Homo sapiens: one gene and its partner. The protein of the gene in region 1 interacts with the protein of each later gene in a pairwise test. Each region holds a gene or a part of one and is shown on either strand. Other genes may lie near its edges.

Evidence for each region. Proteins that work in one complex are often made in the same cells at the same time.
Region 2: the proteins of ANP32A (region 1) and MAP1B interact in a two-hybrid assay, tested with the Homo sapiens proteins (one study listed by BioGRID).

What each region holds. Positions count from the first base shown.
Region 1 is NC_000015.10:68,778,035-68,782,931, forward strand, and holds the end of ANP32A (acidic leucine-rich nuclear phosphoprotein 32 family member A), read right to left. Parts: intron 2,440-4,897; coding exon 2,376-2,439; intron 2,109-2,375; coding exon 2,047-2,108; 3' UTR 501-2,046; downstream 1-500. UniProt on the Homo sapiens protein: Multifunctional protein that is involved in the regulation of many processes including tumor suppression, apoptosis, cell cycle progression or transcription. Promotes apoptosis by favouring the activation of caspase-9/CASP9 and allowing apoptosome formation.
Region 2 is NC_000005.10:72,201,439-72,208,474, reverse strand, and holds part of MAP1B (microtubule-associated protein 1B), read right to left. Parts: intron 4,913-7,036; coding exon 4,674-4,912; intron 3,392-4,673; coding exon 3,236-3,391; 3' UTR 1-3,235. UniProt on the Homo sapiens protein: Facilitates tyrosination of alpha-tubulin in neuronal microtubules. Phosphorylated MAP1B is required for proper microtubule dynamics and plays a role in the cytoskeletal changes that accompany neuronal differentiation and neurite extension.

The DNA.
Region 1 (4,897 bases):
TGAGGTGGGTCACGGGCTCTTCTGGAAACACTTTACACTGCTGGAATCACACAACAACTATAAGACATTGTAAGGAACTAGGGCTTGTTGTGGGTTCAAGGCTGTATAGAATGAATACATAAGAATGAGTATATGTGTACGTGTATAAACAACCACAGTAAACTGGCTGAACTCTTCTGGAAAACATGGAACCTTGTACATGAGCCTCATAAATGTTTTTAGCTTTTGGTCCAATGACTCTACTACTTCTAAGAGTTTGTACTAAGAACTCCACAAAAAGTATAAATAAGTAGTAATATAACAATATCCACTACAGGGGTAAGCTGGACATAATGAAAACATCTAACCATTTGGTTAGAATTAAGTAAATCAGAATATAGTTGATGGACTACTATGTAGCCATTTAAGATACATGCTTTTGAAAATTAAAGAAACAGGGAAATGATTATAATACTGTTAAGTAAAGTAACAAAATAAAACACCATATGTAAACCTCTGGGTTTGTGAAATAATTTGTTTTATAAACATTCCTGAGTTTTCAACCATACATTCTTTTTACAATACGACAAACAAAACAATGAAAGATATTCAAAACAAGGTTCCAAGGTTGGCCCAACTTGATTGTTTGGGTACTTGTTTTTTTAGTAACTCTGTAACTTTTTTAAAGGAAGCTTTTAATGAAGATACACCACTGAGTCTTGCTTTAAGACCAAAAATATCCAAACATAGTATCACATTATATATATCTCATAAGAAAAGCTATTCTATCAGGTAACAAAAATGAAGCTTCCCCCTCACCTAGCAGTTCATCTGGAATGCATCTTGAAAAGATCAATGGCCTGTTGGACTCAAAGAAGCCATCCCCAAAAAAATTGTATAAAAAGATTTATTGAAATTTATCAATGACAAACAGACATAAAACTCAAAGTTTGGCTCTTCTGAGGGGCAGGAGAAAAACTGGTGCAGATGTTCTTTTATACAGATGAAACATGGGTTCAGAAATTACACGTCACTTCTAAAGCAACCAGAAGAGGGACACGAAAGCAAACCTGTACATTCACTAGGAATTTGCAGTCATTTCAGATTTCCACTAGGTAAGAAAATACAATTTTGCGTTAGTTTTTCCGTGCTCGGGTGTATGAAAAAAAAAACCCAGCCGACATGCAGCAACGTCTCCAGCGCTTAGGTCCGTAAAAATGTTCTAAGCACAGAAGTACATGTGGAAGAATTCTCTCATCATTTTTTGTAAAACAAAGCGTTCTAATATTTTACAGAACAAGATAGGACAGTTTTTTTTTTCTTTTAAAGAAGTTGAAGTTTGAAGGTGTGTTTCTTCTAATTTTAATTACCAAATCCATTTTCCTTGTAACTTAACACAACAAGCCTGCGGTTTTCAGCTCTCTGGCTCATAAGCTCAAGAGTAACATCAGAGTCCTCTTTGTAGAGCGAAGCCCACCACCATCTGTGAAGGGGGAAAAGGGATGAGAGATGGGGAATGTCCCCAGACCAGTGCCAAAATACGCCTTTAGGTTGCTATTTACAAACCAGGGCGTTGGATGCCTCTAGCAGGCCTGAGAAAAGCAGGTATCATCATGTGAACCAAAGCAAAAGATATGGCTGGTGCTCAGCCCCTCCTGGGCATTGAGTAACCAAACTGAGACCAGCCACAGCCTTCCAACCAACCCAAGAGACTTGGGAAATACCAGGAAACGTAAGAGAACTCCAAACCATCCTCTTTGAGAGTCAGGAACAAATGCTCACTTAGTGTGTACTTAGCTATCGCATTTACAGGGACAAAAACCGGACACAAAGAAAAAGTAGGGGAAAAAAATAAAGAGTGGCAGTAAAAATAGTATTTTATTCCACCCCCACCCGCCATCCCTCCCCCCGCAACCCCCAGTACACTCTTCCCCTCTCGTTCCCACAGCAACGTTACAATCAGAAAAAAATAAGTTTCAGGGGGCAGGATTGGAGGGGGGGGGGAGAGGGGATATGGGTAAAAACAGTCAAATCACAATAGGAATTTTTCAAAATAGGTTATTCCACTTAGTCATCATCTTCTCCCTCATCTTCAGGTTCTCGTTTTCGCTTCTGACCCCTTTCTTCTTCTGGAAAAGTAAGAAAGCGGCATTTAGATTAGTTATTAATCCCACCTCTTTAACTCAACCCACCCAGTGAGAAGTCAGGGGACCCATGACTAGCAAGCTGTGCCATCCTTGGAAACCGAGGCAAGACATCTGCACAGCTGGAAGGGGAATCTGAGGCCTCTGACAGGAGTGTCCTGCCCACTGCCAGGGGCCTCTGAGTCTAAGCAATCTAAGGCCAAAGTGAAAGGGCCAGGCTGCTACCAGCTGAGAGTAAAAAGGCTGCCATACCACCAAGCTCTTCTTCATCTTCCTCGTCATCTACCTCTCCATCGTTATAACCTTCTTCATCCTCCTAGGAGAAAGGACAGACACCAGAACATTAGAAATGCCCTGCCTTGGGACATGCTGAGGAAGCCACACAGAGCACAAAAAGGCCGGGGTCACCCCCAGCCTCTCAGAGCCCCCACCAAGACTTGACATCTCGGGAGGAATGTAAAGCAGAGGTTCTTAATTTATTTCAGATCAAGGACTCATTGGGAAATCTGCAGAAAGCTTTGAACTCCTTCTCCAGAAAATGTCCGTATCATTTATAATATTTGCAAGCAGTTTCAGGGGGTTATGGATTCCAGGACCCAGGTTAAGAACTCTGATCTGAAGTCCCTGTAAGGCAGGCAGCTCTCCAGTCTGCACATTCTCTGAGGAGAACAAGTTCCCGAGCAGACTCCCTGACGTGCAAAGTAGGCCATCCTTTCTTGCATCTGTCCTCAATCTAGTTTTGGCTTCAAGAGAAGACCCCAGTTTAAGCAAATCCAGATTCTGTGGGCAAGTTCAACGTCACCTGACCCAGCCCCTTCCCTAGCTTGCAAACTTGGACCACCTGGAAGGGTTGGGGAAGATAAATTCAAGACCCCCTGAGGACATCATTCCCAACCGGCTTGAGATTCAGCAAGGTGTATGACTTTCTTTCTCAACACAGGGCCCTTGCTTTCCTCTGCTCCTGAAAGTATATGCAAGTTGAATCTCTGCTTGTTAAACCTGGTTCCTGAAGTTTAAAAGAACTTGGTGACAGACTTCTTTTTTGTCAAGGGAAACATTCTTTTAAAATGTCACCAAAGAGTTCCCTCATCAGTCTGTTTGCTAAGGTTCTGGTTTTTTTTTGCATGTATAAGCTCTCCTTTACTGAAAGCTGGAAATATGCAGATGGTCAGTGAGATTATTTAAAAAACAAAAAACAAAAAACAAAATCCACAACCCTCCCCCATCCCCACCCCCCCAAACCTCACATGCAGCACTCCTGTGACAGGAAGAGGAAGATGTAACAGCTATTAGCCAATACAACTTACTGCCCTGTTCTAGGGGAACCTGTTTTACTAAGACTTTATTTTTAAAATACAATATTCTTTAGAGATGAGCCTAAGAGTCTAGACCTAGGGAGAAGGCAAAGCCAGCAGCACAACTAAACAGAAACCAAGCTCATCTGGCCAGCTTTTTTTTTTTTTTTTAACTGAGTCTCGCTCTATTGCCCAGGCTGGAATGCAGCGGTGCCATCTCGGCTCACTGCAACCTCTGCCTCCCAGGTTCAAGCGATTCGCGTGCCCCAGCCTCCTGTGTAGCTGGAATTATAGGCATCCATCAACATGCCTGGCTAATTTTTATATTTTTAGTAGAGATGGAGTCTCGCCATGTTGCCTAGGCTGGTCTCGATCTCCTGACCTCAAGTGATCCGCCCGCCTCGGCCTCCCAAAGTGCTAGGATTACAGGCGTGAGCCACCGCGCCTGGCCTCCGCGATTCTATTGTCATTGGCCTGTGTCTCTCAAGCCTGGGCCGGCTGGCTGGAACTGGAAGACACTATCTGAGTGAGTCCGTGTGGCAAGCGGATGTGTCTGCATCCTCCATTGAGGGAGACAGGAAACTGCGGGGGGAGTTGGGAGGGGACACAGGCGCCTTGTCCATGCTATTGTCACTTTAAAACTCTCTAGTTCTAACTTTTGCAATTAGCAAGAGTTGATTTAGAATTCTGAGCAAGTCATAGAAAATGACTCTGCTACAGAGAGACTCAGAACACACAAACACAAAACCCAACACAGTGCCAGGAACCTGGAGGAGGGTGTGAACGCCTACAATAAGCAGTCAGACACTTACCCCTTGTCAGACACTGTCCTTAAGCATTTTACTTACACTTCACTTTATCCTCTTAACAACCCTGTGAGAAAGCTATCATGATCCCTATTTTACAGATGAAGAAATAGGCTCAGAAAGGTCAGGTAAATTGTCTGGGGACACACAGCTTGCGAGTGGTAGAGCTGGGACTCACCCCCTCACAGATCTTGTTAAAAAACTGGGAACCAGCCAATCTCTTTAGGAAAATGGCCAACTCCTGGTGCTCTATTTCCATAGTGTCACTCTCTGATTTGGGATCCAGCAGTGTTATCCTGCTACCTATCAGTTCAAGGCAGACTTTGGTTTTCCCTAGCACAGTTTAAGTGCTCAATGAATATCTTAATTAGCATATGAAAGCAAAAAGCAGAAAATGGGGCCATGCATTCTGTACTTCTTCACATAGAAACAACGGCCAGGCTTACCCCAGCAGGTTCAGTCCCTGCCTCTAAAATCCTCTTCCCCTCTTCTAATCCAGCCTCCCCAGAGCTTACTGCAAGTCTTGTCTCCCCAGAAACAGCCCAGTGAAAGGCTCTGAAATGGACTCACTTCACTACCCATCGGGGAGCGACTTTCCTAACCAGGGCTCCGGGGCTGCCAAGACTGATCACAGAGGCAGTCAGTGGGACTGCCTCAAAGGGGCAGACGGTGG
Region 2 (7,036 bases), on another chromosome or scaffold:
TTAAAATTGAAAATGGAGGATCATCGCTAACATTTAGTCTCTGTAGAATTTTGTTTAAGAATACTACCAAAAAGGTCATGATCATGAGTGCTATCTCGATAGAATCCCATCATTTAAACAGAGTGTAAATTCCTTCCACTCAAATATTCAATCTATACAATTGGATTAAGTAATCAGTATGAACAAAGCTCCTAGAAGTCTGTGTCGATCTTTAGCTCTCACCATGAATGTACATGGTACATTGTGATGGCTGTTACTAAACTAATCGTGTATTTATGGAACTAGCAAAATTAGGTTAGTCACACAGGCAGGAAAGGTGTCTGGAAGGACAGGAGCAACCTGTAATGCGAATATTGGTTTTCTTGGTATACTCAGGCTCTGTGGTCATATTGAGAACAACGGATGGAGAAAGGTACTGATAGATTTCATAGGAAAAAGAGCCAGCTGACTAGTGACAGTTTTTACATATTTTTCCCATTAAATCCCATAGCAAAAAAAAAAAAAAAAAAAAAGAGAGAGAGAGAGAGAAAGTGAGGAGGGTGGAGTGGTTATAACTGAAGACTGGCTATAATTCTCCTACAATGTTTATAGTTTTTAAAGCAAAATAATGTTCAGGTTAAATACATTTAATTGTGAAATTGGAAAATAACTTGCATCTTCTGTCAAAGAAAAATCAACCAGAGGTCTGGATTTGGCAAGAAGGCTAAAAATCTGGTTTTCTTCCCACGCATTATGTAGACCAATTCAACTTAAGAGCTAACCATTAAATAATTATCTTGAGTATCTTAGGTTGTGTTATAAAATAAATTTGAAGTAGATGAGTTTATACTCAATGAAATTCATTGGCGTCACAATGACTTTTCCATCATGTGTTAATTTCTTGTACCCTTAATATGTTATTTTCCAAGGACTTGAAAGAAATGGGGTAATAAATAAAAGCTGCATTTCTAGAGAAGCCTAACAAAAATAGAATATTAATTTTCTTTAAAAAATTAAACATTTGAAAAATGTAATTCACAGCATTAAGTAGACTGCATAGGTCCTCAGTGAAAGGACCCTGAAGAAGCATTTTTTTAAACCCTCATCATAGTTAGCAGTGCAAAACATAGACTTATCAGACAAAAATCAACTAAAATGTTAATTTTGAAATAAATAACTAACATAGAAAATAAAATGAGGTCATTGTTCTCTACTCCGTAGATCTTAGAGTCTGCAGGAAATGTAATGTGACAGAGCACAGCACAGTTGTCACGGAGAAGTTTGCCTCATCTGAACACTGGGTGCATTGATCTGCAACTTGAAACTTGATGTCAGTGTTAATCATGATCTGGCTTCCCAGGTTCACAGTTCAATGATGACAATGATGGAAATTTTCTCTAAACTCTACATGAACCGTAGGAGTTGAGAATTCATTTGTTTTCAATGTACTATTTCTTTTATTTTTTTTTTCCAGAAAAGAAAATCCCAAAGCAAATTTGTGCTAGGGTTCTTTGAACTTGGCTCTTTTACCTCATGGTTGAAGATCTTGAAAGAAGTATGTAGGATACCACTGGGTGATGTACTTGTCAAGGCCCTGAAAAGTAGCCTACCATGCCATTCTCCCCCACTCTCAAGTAGCACTTTTATGTTATGGGAATCAAGGGGTGGGAGGTATCATTATTCCTGGTAGTTATGGGTTTTTAATAAATATCATTACTGCAATATCAGACTTCAATCTTGCCAGAACTTCAAAAAACATTATTCAATTTTTGTCTTACGAAACACTTAAAAAAAAAGACTATCACTTGAGAATTTTCTTTGCAATTTCCTGTAAATGAAAACATTTGTTAAAAAGTTCATCTATGAAAAGTTCTCACATATCTTAAAAAAAAAATTCTTCTGTACACTTGTTCCCATAATTATGTTGAAATTAATGGAAAATTTAAAAAGCCAATGTAAGACAAAGGAAGGTAAATACTGTACACTTGCTGAGAACCTCTTCCACCATAAGATTCACTGTTTTCCCAGTTCTGATCATAGAAGCCATTTCAGTCTTGAACTTGCAGTAGTAAAGAAGCTGTGAAAGGCACAACTTGTTTGACTGAGAGGCCACAGGTGCACTGAAGTGGGATTCAACACGCATGACTCAGCATCAAACTGTTGGACCAATCAGATCAGCTTCTAGTACCCCCACACACGCTCACCCACGTGTTCCTTTAAGTATCTATAATCCTATATGGATGTTTTATAAACTTGCTGTCTCACATTAAAAAATAAGTGCATCAAGTATCTTTGTACATTCAAGTCACTTCCTAAGGCAAATTGTCTACCATATGTACTCCCAACTGCTTTGGTATTTGCTTCAGTTAATTGGGGTGGACTTGGGTGTTGCTGCATGCAGGTTAATCGACTCAGAGTGGACTAAGTGGGTGGACAAATGCTGGGAGCATGCCTTAGATCAATCTACTTGTGTGTTTAGAGTCTGAGAGTTCTGAATGGGGCCCAAACCACTTGCATGGCCAGTCTACACTCACTACATTATGTCAGTGTGCAGCCTTCAAACTGAAGGAGCTTAATTAAGATGTGAAAATATCACATGCCCTCATAACAAGTGTTGTTCTTTTTACTTTCTTCTAGCCAACTTGTTTTAGAAAATTAAGACTCTTTTTGATGACTCAGACTGACAAAAATGGAAAACTTTGCCTATGTAGACTAAAGAATGCCTACTGCCTGAGAAAATGCAGACCTAATTGTTGGTTTATTTTCTCCTCCTTACCCCACCCTGCTCTCTCTTTTTCTCTCTGGGTATCTCACCAGAACTCTCTGTCATTACATCTCCTTCTCTTGCATTCCTTTTCTTTCTCATTCTTTCTCTCTCTCTCTCCTGCGTTATCTTTGTGCTCTCACTCTCTCTCACTCTCTCCCGCGCTCTCTCTCTCTCTAAGACAAATGCCTCTACCTAGCAGAAGTCAGTTGGGTTGGCTAGTGCATGGTTTCCAAATGTTCAGCAGAGATGAACTGGGGTAGGTAATTTTGCAGGAATTTGAACCCTATTGTGGAAATACTGTTATTTCCCTTAGCAATCAGCAAAAACTGAGAAATTTAGTGACTTGCATCACCATGACACAGTATAGCATTTGGCAGGTAATTGTTCAGCGACTTAACTAGATGAATTGACTTTTTAGAAAAGGTGATTTCAAATTGAAGAATTTCTGGAAACAAAGTTCAGATCCTGTGGTGTGGCTGGCCTTGGTTTTTACAGTTCAATCTTGCATGCAGGGAAGGATTCATCTTGCATAACCACTGTGCTGCTGCTTGCTAAAACCATGATGTTGAGATCTTGCTGTTTCTCATGGGTCTCCTGGTACCATTCCCTCATCACTTCTGAGTCATGAGTTGGGATCAGTGTCACCTGCAGGGAGAGAAAAAAAAAATAGCTATTTAAGGGCAGAAACAGAAACCATATGAAAAAAATTGAATAGCAAGGTATTAGACCACTGGAAGAAGAAGGGAAATGAGAGAAAACTTTTCTATTTTCCTCAAGAAATGCAAAGGATTTTTCAATGTATATTTTCCAGGAACCAGAATAAAGCTGCAAAGAAAAGCTATTGTTTCTAAGGGAAACTGAAGGCTGGAACCAAAAAGCAATTAATCAGTTTCTCAGTTCTTTACTGTTAAGAGAAGTGCTTCCGTTAGGGTACAATTTTTTGTATTTCCTTTAACACAACTGGTAAGTTTTGCATAAAAGATATTGCATATTTAATCCAAGGATTTTATCGCGCACTTCAAAGCCCTCAAAAGCCCACTCATTGTGAGTAACTAACATTTTGTCCTGAGAACAAAGATCTGCACCTTTACTTTATGTGTGTGGTTGGGGATGGAGGTATGGGGTGGGTAAGTAATGTCCTGAATAGTATAAATTCCATCTAGCATTCAGTAGGGAGCCACTGGGTGCCTCTCATTAGATTTCATATGATTAAATAACAAGTAATTCTATATAATATGATACAAGCACAATTTACTAGGTAATTTTGTACAGAACCACAAATAAAACTTGATAAGCAAAGATCACAGCTGAATTAATAATAGCTGGTTCTAAGAATCATTTAAGGCCAGGAGTTCGAGACCAGCCTGGGCAACATAGGGAGACCCTGTCATTAAATAAATAAGGGATGGTTTGTGGTCAGGCATGATGTTTGGGAGTTGGGAGTGTCCTGTGAGGGACTATATTCAGCAATGCTCCTGCTGTGGAATTTCACATGGAGAGCTGTTTTTCTAAATGGCCATATTCCTAGCCGCAGTCTACTCATAAAACACAAAGGAAGAAAGGCAATTCCTCAGGAGCTCTCATATGGAAATATGACCGCTTTGATTCACACACACAAGACTCTTGGCATACTGGAGGAAGGGCAATTAATCTTAGGCCCATTTTGCAGATAAATGGTTTCTGCTTTAGTTAAGGTGTCTTTCCTCCAAGGCCGTGGTTGGTGGTGGTGCCAAGAATATTATTTCAGACTACCTACTGTGTGTTAAACTGACTTTGTTCTCAGGATATTTCGTGTGTGACAGACACAGGAGGCACCTCATGTGGATCCACGATCAGCCACATGAGGTGCCTCTTTAAACATGGTTCCTTCCCATTGCCTCTGGACACAGCTCAATCGGCAGTGCAGACACTGTCGAGGAGTTCTCACCTGCATGTTGCTGCCCCACTGAGCCTTTCCTTCCAACAAAGCGTCCAGGACAGCCCGGCTGGGCTCCTCAGCAGCAGGGTCATTCCCACTCACCACGTAGTAGGAAGACCGCACTCTCTTGAAAAATTCCACATCAACATTCTTACTATTGCTGTGGTTAGGAATGTAGCACAGGTCCAAATACACAGGGAGGCCTGGGGGCACAGCAGATGACTTGGTCGTCTTGGTAGTTCCTGGTCCTTGGGTAAATAAACAAAGACAAAGCAAGGTCATAGCAAGGTGAAGAGACCATACATCCAGCACATGTTCCCCACTCAATCACACCTTCCCTATTCAATCACAAGTAGGTCCTCTGAGACATGCAAAGTGGTGACAGCATTTCCATCTCCCTGGTAATCTGTCAAGGGCATTTACGCTAGCAATGTGACAAAACATAACATGGTTGTTTACCACCTCAATAGGAGAAATGAAGAATGGGATAGTTTCCCTTTGTGGACAACCAATATTAGGAAGCAAGAAGAGTTTGAAGGCCTTTCCCAAGATGGCACTAGATATAATACTCCTCCTAAAGAAGTTGTTAATGTGTTTCTTTATTTGATAAGTGATCTAAGAAGTAGATTTTAAAAGTCAAAAGAAAACGTCTGTATTTGGCAAAACATAGCTAAGTGATCTTAGTGCTCTATTTTAGGGTCTCATTGATAGCAATTTTGTCCACAGCTGGATATTATACCCTAACATTCTACCTAGCAAATAGTTTTGATCTTAACCCCATATGATTTCCAAGGCCCTCAGCACCTCCATCTCATTCATAAACTGATGAAACACCATATTCTCTCCTTAGCACAGTATTCTGAAAAGTGATACTTCTTTCCCTAGACAAGGCTGGATGCCAAACTTGGGCAAAGGAAGGTTCAGAAAGACTAGGCTTTCTCTAGCTAATCAGGACATATCAGACTGCAACCAAAACCCCCAGTCAAATCACAAAGGTCTGGGAAAACTAACTTGTTCCAGTTAGGAAGTTTAAAGCTTTTGAAATGTTAATAGAACTAGCATTTTGAGGCAGTGGTTCTTCAGCCTGACTATATAATCAGAATCACCTCGGATGCTTAATACTGACACCCAGGCCTCATTCTCTAGAGTCTGACTTAAGTGGGCTTGGGTTGGGGCCTGGAACTACTGTCTTTTAAAAGCACCCCAGGCGATTCTAATATGCAGCTGGTTTCATTGCTGTAAAGCCAATTAAAACACCAGCTAGATTTTACATGCTTAATCCTCTTTCTCCATAGGATATTTAAAGACTATCATCCCAGATTGAAAACCACCAGCTAATTCTATCAACTGTACAGTTTTATTTTTAGAGAGGTTAGGGAGTGGTGAGAATCAGCCAAAGTAATAATTGGATAAGCTAATTCATTCTATGAATAGATCAATAGTTTATTTTAATGAATCTGAGCCGAAAGCCCTCAAAATATCCAAAGAATTCCTAAAGAATTCTGACTTGTACTAGAAGTTTGTGAGTTACAGTTCTTCCAGTAATTAAACATGTCTGCCAATTTCGCCCTCTACTCTAAATCACTACCATCAACATCAAATGAATATTGCTCACAGAAGCACAAACTGACAGAACTGCCCAGGTTTGCTTTAAAAGTCAATTAGTACTGCAACTTTGCCTTTTTAGACATCTAAAAGCATCTCCAAAATAAATGAAAATTAACTCATTTTCACTTATTACTTTGCCTTTAAATTACCTCTTTAAATGTCCAAAAAAAGTTTTTTTAAAAATTGTGTGGGCTAGGATGTATATGTTCTGGCAAATTTGCAGTTGGTTTTATCTGTTTAAATGGATTTCATGTTTTCTCCTAAGTGCAGGTCAGTTGTCAACTCTTTCAGATGAAAGGGTTAATTATCTGGTGGTTTTTCATTCATTTTAAACATGAAAAAATTCCGATTATTTTCTATGTGCATGTAGAAAGGCCAAATGTGCTGAGAACTGAGCCTTAAAATTGATACTCCATATTGTTTAAAGTAAAAATTTGCAGTTTTAACAAATGTATCCTAAAGTGTACTTAATTGGAGAGCTCCAAAGATTACTCTATCAGATTTTCCCTAATAAATCAGGGCAATGTTATTTAAATTATGTTGTGCCTTACATGTTTGGGTCCATTTACATTACTTTGTGAATTGTGATCTAAAAATCTCTGAATAATTACCTAAAGCAAATAAAATGTATGAATGCCAATCCTTGTGATTGATGTGAAGCAACAAAATGAAGCAGTACTGCCATAGACCAGTTCCATCAAAAGCCCAGGTCATTGCTGAGAACCTGATAAATCTGAGAATCATGACCAAAAACATGAATGATC